Homo sapiens: one gene and its partner. The protein of the gene in region 2 purifies or fractionates together with the protein of the main gene of each other region. This does not show direct contact. Each region holds a gene or a part of one and is shown on either strand. Other genes may lie near its edges.

Region 1 (2,600 bases), on a different chromosome or scaffold from region 2:
ATGGCTTCCTCTAGAAATAATTCTGTATCTGGACTATCAGTCAAATCAAAAAATAATACCAAACAAAAGCTTCCTGTGAAAAGCCACTCAGAATGTGGAATCATAGAAAAAGCAACGTCACCAAAAGAACTGGGCTGTGACAGGCAATCCGAAGAGCAAATGAAGAATTCTGTTCAGACTCCCGTTGAAAACTCCACCAACAGTCAGCACCAGGTCAAAGAAGCTTTACCTGTGTCACTCCCCCAGATTCCTTGTCTGTCTTCCTTTAAAATCCATCAGCCATACACGTTGACTTTTGCTGAATTGGTAGAGGATTATGAACATTATATTAAAGAGGGGTTAGAGAAACCTGTGGAAATCATCAGGCACTACACAGGCCCTGGGGATCAGACTGTGAATCCTCAAAATGGTTTTGTGAGAAATAAAGTTATTGAACAGAGAGTCCCTGTGTTGGCAAGTAGTAGCCAATCTGGAGACTCTGAGAGTGACAGTGATTCTTACAGCTCAAGAACCTCTTCCCAGAGCAAAGGAAATAAGTCATACTTGGAAGGCTCTTCTGATAATCAGCTGAAAGACTCTGAATCTACGCCTGTGGATGATCGTATTTCTTTGGAACAACCACCAAATGGAAGTGACACCCCCAATCCAGAGAAATATCAAGAATCACCTGGAATCCAGATGAAGACAAGACTTAAAGAGGGGGCTAGCCAGAGAGCTAAGCAGAGCCGGAGAAACCTACCCAGGCGGTCTTCCTTCAGATTGCAGACTGAAGCCCAGGAAGATGATTGGTATGACTGTCATAGGGAAATACGTCTGAGTTTTTCTGATACCTATCAGGATTATGAGGAGTACTGGAGAGCTTACTACAGGGCATGGCAAGAATATTATGCTGCCGCTTCTCATTCATATTATTGGAATGCTCAGAGACATCCAAGTTGGATGGCAGCTTATCACATGAATACCATTTATCTACAAGAAATGATGCATAGTAACCAGTGATTATAGGATATACCTGAGACCATCAGGAACTGTCAACAAATGATACCTTTGGATATCCATCCTCCTCGACTTATAGTACAGTGGTGTATAGTGGCATTTCTGATAAACTTGAAAAGACTTGAGTCTTTCCACTGGGACACATCCATTTTTCAGATTGTTTTGATTTAGGCCAGGTATATTATCTTCATTTTTAAGAGTTTCTTTAAGAAACTTCATCAGATTGTTGAAAGATAATTTTTGGGACATAGAGCTGAAAGTTTCAGGGTGCCATTTTCTATAAGATCTTCCCAAAAGAAACATTTAAAAAGATGACATATACCACCACTTACTTAAAAACAATAAAAGCAATAGATTTGATTAGTAATATTATTGCTGTGGAGTTCTTTACAAAGGGCTTAGGCTGCATTTCCTTCTATAGAGGTGCATTCTTGTAGAAATTTGTAGCATGGTAGATCAGAAAATCCTCTTAGGTTTTAGGCAGGAAGGAATATTTAAACATTGCTTTAGATTTTCCTAAAGGTATTTGATTTGATCTGTTAGCTTCCAGTAAAAATATTTGTTTTTAGTAAAAACAAATTTAAATATATTTACATGTTTGTTGTTTATCTTTTGAATGTCTTTTGAGGCTGTGAAAGCTGTCCACATTTTTGCTGTGTATTAAATAGCTGTGGGTCATCAGTTGCTGTCTTACTTGTGTTGCTCAGATAGAGGAGCAGCTCTTAATCTTTTTTGGTTCTTGGATCCTTTTATGAATCAGCTGATAGCTATAGATTGACTTCAGGAAATTTCTCATTCCATAAGCACAGAATTGTGAGTGTAATTTCAAGGGGTTCATAGACCCTCTGAAGTTCATCTATACAGTCCAGATTAACAAGTGACCTGCTCTGCTGGTAGGCTAGGGGAAGTTCTAGCTCTTAGTTTTAAGTATTTTGTGGAAGCTGGAATTGATTCTCTTCAGACACTTCTTAGTACATCCTAATTTTGTGTCTTCTAGAAAATTTTCCCCAGTTTTTACCTCTAATGTTAGGATCCAAGAGGAGCTTGGATCTGAGCTGATGCATCTGTAAATTACGATTTAGAAAAATATAATTGGAAATTACATATTCTTTGCTTTTTTCCTCTGGAAATCCTTTTATGATTAAGCTTTTGGTTCCCAAGCCTTTCTGTGAACTGGATTTTTTATGAGAGAACCACTTGTGTAGAGAGATGTGTATTCACTTTTTAAAAGGAAAGCTCTTCTTTCCTGTGTACATACTTGTCTAGGTAGTATAAACACTTTCCCCAGGGCTGTCAGCAAACACCCACAGCCATTGTCATTTATTGTCCAACACCTACATAACACAATTCTAAAATCCTACTTAACTTGGATTCCTGTCATTTGGATTGGGCAATATTAGGCTTTTCTTACATGTGTCAGTATGTGAATTAATTAATAATGTAGATAGCAAATCCATAATTAGGTCCAGTATGTCATTAAGAAGTAGAGATTTTAATTACACATTTAAATAAGATCCTGTCATTGATATATAATTGAATTTACTTTTTCCATCCTTTCCCCCACAATACAGCCAAGTTCAGTTTGTCATTGCTGGGGGATTTTA
Region 2 (7,157 bases):
CCGGGTTCATGCCATTCTCCTGCCTCAGCCTCCCGAGTAGCTGGGACTACAGGTGCCCGCCACCACGCCTGGCTAATTTTTTGTATTTTTAGAGATGGGGTTTCACCGTGTTAGCCAGGATGGTCTTGATCTCCTGACCTTGTGATCTGCCCACTTTGGCCTTCCAAAGTGCTGGGATTACAGACGTGAGCCACCGCACCCGACCTTTTTTTTTTTTTTTTGAGATGGAGTATCGCTCTGTTGCCCAGGCTGGAGTGCAGTGGCGTGATCTAGGCTCACTGCAACTTCCACCTCCCGGGTTCAAAGGATTCTCCTGCCTCAGCCTCCTGAGTAGCTGGGATTACAGGCACGCGCTACCATGCCTGGCTAATTTTTGTATTTTTTGTAAAGACGGGGTTTCACCATGTTGGTCAGGATGGTCTCAAACTCCTGACCTTGTGATCTGTCTGCCTTGGCCTCCCAAAGTGCTGGGATTACAGGCATGAGCCACTGCACCCTACCAGCCAGTTCCTATTTAATGTGTGGTTGATGAGACCTTTAAGAGCTGCCTTGGCCCTCAGAGGGTGTGCAGTTGTGGGCTTTGGAGCCCTGTTCTGTCAGCTTATGTTGCTTTAGGCCTGGTCATCCTCACTGGCACTCATAAGCAGGGCCCTGCCATCACTCCACTCCCATCACATCCTCTGGCACTTTGTTCAATGTGAGTGATACTTGGAGCTGTGAGAAGCAATGTCTTTCCTAAATATGGAAGACAGGGTGTTTCCTAAATACTATAAAGCTAGATGTCACCTGTACCAGTGCTTTTCAAACTGTCTTTGGTGAAGGACAGATACTGTTTCCAATCTGTTTGCTTTTGATAAATATGATAGAATTACTTTTTAAAGAAAGATCTACAGTCAGGAGTTCAAGACCAGCCAGGCCAACATGGTGAAACCCTGTCTCTACTAAAAATGCAAAAACTAGCCAACATGCTGTCGTGTGCCTGTAATCCCAGGTACTCACTCAGGAGGCTTAGGCAGGAGAACCGCTTGAACGATTCTAGTCAGTTGCTGGGTTCCTTTTAGAGAGACGGGCACAGGGGGGAAAGCAGGGCTTAGAATCGCTTGAACCTGGGAAGCGGAGGTTGCAGTGAGCCCAGATCGCGCCATTGCACACCAGCCTGGGCAACAGACCACAACTTCGTCTCAGAAAAAAAAAAGACCTACAGAATAAAAGACCAAATTTGTATTAAGAGTCAGTGGACATCAAATTGTGAAATTACTGTAGAAGTTCCTGAACACTTAGTCCTGGTTTCTGTACTTATCACAGTCCAGCAACAGTTTAGATAGTACTGGTCCATGGACCATGCTTAGTTTTTGAGACAGGATTTTTTTTTTTTTTTTTTTTTTTTGAGACGGAATCTTGCTCTGTTGTGCAGGCTGGAGTGCAGTGGTGCGATCTCGGCTCACTGCAACCTCCGCCTCCTGGGTTCATGCCATTCTCCTGCCTCAGCCTCCCGAGTAGCTGGGACTACAGGCGCCCACCACCACGCCCGGCTAATTTTTTGTATTTTTAGTAGAGGTGGGGTTTCACCATGTTAGTCAGGATGGTCTCGGATCTCCTGACCTCATGATCCGCCTGCCTCGGCCTCCCAAAGTGCTGGGATTACAGGCGTGTGCACTGCACCCGGCCTTTACACCTGGCTAATTTTTAAATTTTTTGTGGAGATGGTGTTTCACTGTGTTGTCCCAGGCTGGTCTGAAACCCCTAGGCTCAAGCATTCTCCCTGTGTCATCATCCCAAAGTGCTGCGATTACAAGTGGAAGCCACTGTGCGTGGCTGCAGACCTTGCTTTGATCTGTGCCACTCCCCTCCCTCCACTGTGTCAGGGGAAGTGTGCGTGGATGTTTATTTTTGTAGGGGGTGGGGGTGGGAGGGTTAACCTGTTTATTTCCTTGGTGAGTGTCCCTTGCCATTTCCCCCAGTCCTTCCCACCCTGTCACCTCTCTTCTTGTTCCCAGGACCCTCGAGATGCCCCTCCTCCAACTCGTGCTGAAACCCGAGAGGAGCGCATGGAGAGGAAAGTATGTCATTTTTGCTTCCTGACCCCCTGTTTTACCACTGTCTCCAGATGATCCTTGACACTAGGGCACTTCTATCTGCATTCACTTCTCCACCTCCCCTTTCTCCTGACAGAGACGGGAAAAGATTGAGCGGCGACAGCAAGAAGTGGAGACAGAGCTTAAAATGTGTAAGTCTCTCATCCACCATTTGGCTCTCTCCTCTCCCAAACCCTCTGTATTCTTCCCAGGTCATACCCAGGACCCTGCTGTCTCCCTAAGGCCTGTGTTGTGGGGAACAGGGTTGTTAGTTCATTTGTTTAGCCCCTGCCACTTCACAAGCACTGTTTTTGGTTTAGGCTTTTCAGCAGCAGAACATAGGGTAAAAGTTGGCAGGAAGGGAGACCCCTGGTACCTTGGGCTCCTCCTGCATGGGAGGACAGTTAAGGGGCTCCCACAACCCAGCTGGGTGTCACAGGCTGAAGTGGTGGGTTGTGGGATAGTGGTCTGTCCTGGCTCTAACCTTAGGTCCCCAACCCTTGGGCTGAGGATGTTCCATCCCCTCCACATAGAGGAGGAATTGGAGTACAAGACAGGTGTGTTGTTGCCATTAACCAAACTCATAAGAGGGTCAGATGTCAACCTCCAGTGGCTCTTTATTCTGAAAGTGAAAACTGTACAGTCACAGGCAGCATAGCAGTGTTTCACTCAGCAGGGGACCGTGGATGTGATGGTGATCCTATAAGATTATATCATATTTTGCCAGGCACTGTGGCTCACGCTGTAATCCCAGTACTTTGGGAGGCCGAGGCAGGCGGATCATGAGGTCAGGAGTTCGAGACCAGCCTGGCCAGCGTGGTGAAATCCTGTCTCTACTAAAAGTACAAAAATTAGCTGGGCGTGGTGGCGAGCGTCTGTAATCCCAGCTACTCGGGAGACTGAGGCAGGAGAATCTCCTGAACCCAGAAGGCGGAGGTTGCAGTGAGCCGGGATCGCGTCGGCTCACTGCAACCCAGCCTGGGCAACAAGCAAAAATCTGTCTTAAAAAAAAAAAAGATTATACCGTCTATTTACTGTACCCTTTCTATGCTTTGATAACGTTTAGATGCACAAATACTTACTATTGTGTTAGGATTGCTGTAGTATTTGGTGTAGTAACACGCTTGGCCTCGGAGCAGTGGGACGCACCCTCTAGCCCAGGAGTGTTAGGTATGCTGTCTAGGCTCGTGGAAGTGCCATCTCATGTTGGCATATCGACATCATCATCAAACGACGCACTTCTCAGAACATGACTCTAGTGAGAAGACAGGTTTTCCTCCTATACCTGTGAACTTTGATGAATCCCTTTCCTCCAAATCCTGGAGTGCAGGATTTCCTCACGGTGCTTACGCAGAAGCGTGACAGAGACATCTGGCGGTGCACTCTTTGGACATTGGCTGTCGGAACGCTGTCTTGATGTCCTGCCTCAGAGGCATCTCAGACTCAGTGTCCAAACCACAGGGGTTTTCCCTCGCCACCAACCTGGTTTCCTTTGGGTGTTTTCTCTGGGACATAGACATTCAGCTGTGCCGGTCATGACCTCATTTTTTGCCATGCAGTTTGTTTCTAACACCTTTTCTAACCTTTTGCTCAGCCTCTCACCAAGACCTATTTGTGTTATTTTCTAAATGTCACAAATCTGACCCTTCTTTTCATGTCCATCATCACCACCCAGGTCACCTCTTGCCTAGACAACACAGTCACAGTCTTAACTAGTTTACCTATGTCTTTTTGTTTGTTTGTTTGTTTGTTTGTTTTTTGGAGGCAGCCTCGCTCTGTCGCCAGGCTGGAGTGCAGTGGTGCAATCTTGGCTCACTGCACCCTCCGCCTCCCAGGTTCAAGTGATTCTCCTGCTTCAGCCTCCCAAGTAGCTGGGACTACAGGCGTGCGTCACCACGCCCAGCTAATTTTTGTATTTTTAGTAGAGGCGGGGTTTCAGCATGTTGACCAGGATCGTCTAGATCTCTTGACCTTGTGATCTGCCCACCTTGGCCTCCCAAAGTGCTGGGATTATAGGCATGAGCCACCGTGCCTGGTCACCCCCCTCCTTTTTTTTTTGAGACGGAGTCACGCTCTCTCAATCAGGCTGGAGTGCAGTGGTACTATCTTAGCTCACTGCAACTTCCGCCTCCTGGGTTCAAGTGATTCTCCTGCCTCAGCCTTCTGAGCAGCTGGGACTACAGGCGTGCGCCACCATGCCCAGGTAATTTTTGTAATTTTAGTAGAGATGGGGTTTCACCATGTTGGCCAGGCTGGCCTCGAACTCCTGACCTCAGGTGATCCACCTGCTTCAGCCTCCCAAAGTGCTGGGATTACAGGCATGAGCCACCGCAGCCGGCCTAGTTTGTCTATATCTTAACCAACCACATCCACTGTGGGTCTTCTTTTTTTTCTTTTTTGGAAAAACTTTAAAACTGAGACGGGGTCTCACTATGTTGCCCAGGCTGGTCTTGAATTCCTGGGCTCAAGTGATCCTCTTGCCTCAGCCTCCCTCAGTGCTGGATTACAGGTGTCAGCCATTGTGCTCAGCCTCTTTTTTTTTTGTTGTGTTTTGTTTTGTTCTTAGGGACAGGGTCGTGCTGTGTTGCCCAGGCTTTACTGCCGTGGTGCAGTCATAGCTCACTGCAACCTTGAATTCCTGGCCTCAGGTGATCTGTCTGCCTCGGCCCCCAGAGTGTTGGGATTTCAGGTGTGAGCCACCATGCCCAGCCAAAAGTGTTTTTCATTTTTTGTTTTTTGTTTTTTAGATGGAGTTTTGCTGTTATTGCCCAGGCTGGAGTGTAGTGGTACGATCTAGGGTCACTGCAACCTCTGCCTCCCCGGTTCAAGCGATTTCCCTGCCTCCTGAGTAGCTGGGATTACAGGCATGCACCACCATGCCTGGCTAATTTTGTATTTTTAGAGACAGGGTTTCTCCATGTTGGTCAGGCTGTTCTCGAACTCCCGACCTCAGGTGATCTGCCCGCCTCGGTCTCCCAAAGTGCTGGGATTACAGGGCGTAGCCACCACACCCGGCCAGAAATGCTTTTTAAAAACGGTTCCACCCGGGCGTGGTGGCTCACGCCTGTAATCCTTCAAGGCAGGTGGGTCACCTGAGGTTGGGAGTTCGAGACCAGCCTGGCCAACATGGTGAAACCCTGTTTCTGCTAAGAATACAAAAATTAGCCCGGCGTGGTGATGTGTACCTGTAATCCCAGCTACTCGGGAGGCTGAGGCAAGAGAATCCTTTGAACCTGGGAGGCGGAGGTTGCAGTGAGCCGAGATCACGCCATTGCACTCCAGCCTGGGTGACAGAACAAGATTCCATCTCAAAAAAAAAAAAAACAAAAAAAAAAACAGTTCCAGGCCAGGCACGGAGGCTCATGCCTGTTGTCCAGCACTTTGGGAGGCTGAGGCAGGCAGATCACATGAGGTCAGGAGTTCAAGACCAGCCTGGCCAACATGGTGAAACCCCATCTCTACTAAAAATACCAAAACAAAAACAAAAACAAAAACAAAACAAAACCTAGCCAGGCATTGTAGTGGGCTCCTGTAATCCCAGCTACTCGGGAGGCTGAGGCTGGAGAATTGCTTGAACCCGGGAGGCGGAGTTTGCAGTGAGCAGAGATAGCGCCATTACACTCCAGCCCGGGCAATAAGAGCAAGACTCCTTCTCAAAAAACAAACAAGTAAGTTCCAATTGGGCGAACAAAAAAGTTCCAATTGAGGAATTTGAACACTGGATCATAGATGAGGTTAAGGAATTAGTAAATGTTAACTCTAAGATGTAATAGTGGCACTGTGGTTATGATGTTTAAAAGCCTTTGTTAGAGACCAAAATGGTGTGCTATCTGGAATTTCATTTAAAATAATCCAGCCGGTCGTGGTGGTTCACGCCTGTAATCCCAGCACTCTGGGAGGCTGAGGTGGGAGGATTACTTGAGTGATCCAGGTTCGAGTGGTGAATATGGTGAAACCCTGTCTCAACTGAAAATATAAAAATTATCTGGGTGTGGTAGCAGGGGCCTCTAATTGCAACTACTTGGGAGGCTGAGGCAGGAGAATCACTTGAACTCAGGAGGCAGAGGTTGGGGTGAGCTGAGGTCATGCCACTGCACTCCAGCCGGGGTGACAGAGCAAGACTCCGTCTCAAAAAAATGCAGTGGGCTGTGGGAGGATAGGGATGAAACAAGTCCGTCCACGTGTTGATAATGGAAGCGGGCTCATGGGAGTTCGTTATACTGCTCTGCCTCCATTAAATGCTTGAACTTCTCCATAATAGAAAAGAAATAAAAGAATGGATCAAGTTCAGTAGGGTTTCTGTGCCCTTGAGAGCCTCCACTCATAGCTATAGAAGCTTGCTGTGCCTTGTCACAATGAACAGCTCCCGTCAAGGGGACGGTGCCTCCTTGCTGAGCGCTTGTACTTGGTGTTACTGACTTTCTCACAGCTTCCAAGTGCAGCAGGGGTTGCTACTCCCATTTTTAAGATAAAGAAATGGAGGCTTGTTGAGGCAAGCACGCTTCCAAAGAGTGAGAGTTCCAAGATGGGACCTCGAGTACCTCAAAGCCTAATTCCCAACTCCACGACCCACTTCCGTTGAGTCTCTGCTCTGGGCTGCTACTTAGATGAGCCCTCAACCAGTGATGTCCTGAGGGAGAGCTGCCGTCAGGGCGCTGCACGCATACGCTGGCTGTGGGGCGCTGCCCGGCATTGGGTCTGTGCTACCTTCTTTGAGCTTTTGTTCTCTATCTTCAGGACTTGGGGGTACCATTGCTTTGCTGCATTTGCTTTTTACCTTTAGTCACATTTGTGGCCCCCCCACCCCGGGTAAGCAAGTGCTCCAGGGAACTCACACAGTGTGCTGGGGTGGTTTCCCTCTGGCTGCCCTTCAGGAAGCTCAGCTGTTGTTTGGCCTTCGTCCACTCCCCAGCCCTGCAGCATTCATTGGTCCCACTGTCATGCTCCACAGTAACTGTTAGAATGCCTGCTGTCTGGCGTTGCCGGGTGTGTTTCCTTGCTGCTGTGACAGCTTTCAGCTCTTCATTAAATGTTAGCATCTTGTGAGGCTTTTTCTAACCTGCCTTGTAAAGTCACCCGTTT

What was found. The genes of interacting proteins can lie anywhere in the genome.
Region 1: the proteins of SNRNP70 (region 2) and DDX20 purify together in Homo sapiens (affinity purification with mass spectrometry; 5 studies listed by BioGRID and IntAct, with this or other methods). This does not show direct contact.

What each region holds. Positions count from the first base shown.
Region 1 is NC_000001.11:111,765,901-111,768,500, forward strand, and holds the end of DDX20 (probable ATP-dependent RNA helicase DDX20), read left to right. Parts: coding exon 1-999; 3' UTR 1,000-2,100; downstream 2,101-2,600.
Region 2 is NC_000019.10:49,088,294-49,095,450, forward strand, and holds part of SNRNP70 (U1 small nuclear ribonucleoprotein 70 kDa), read left to right. Parts: intron 1-1,997; coding exon 1,998-2,060; intron 2,061-2,172; coding exon 2,173-2,227; intron 2,228-7,157. UniProt on the Homo sapiens protein: Component of the spliceosomal U1 snRNP, which is essential for recognition of the pre-mRNA 5' splice-site and the subsequent assembly of the spliceosome. SNRNP70 binds to the loop I region of U1-snRNA.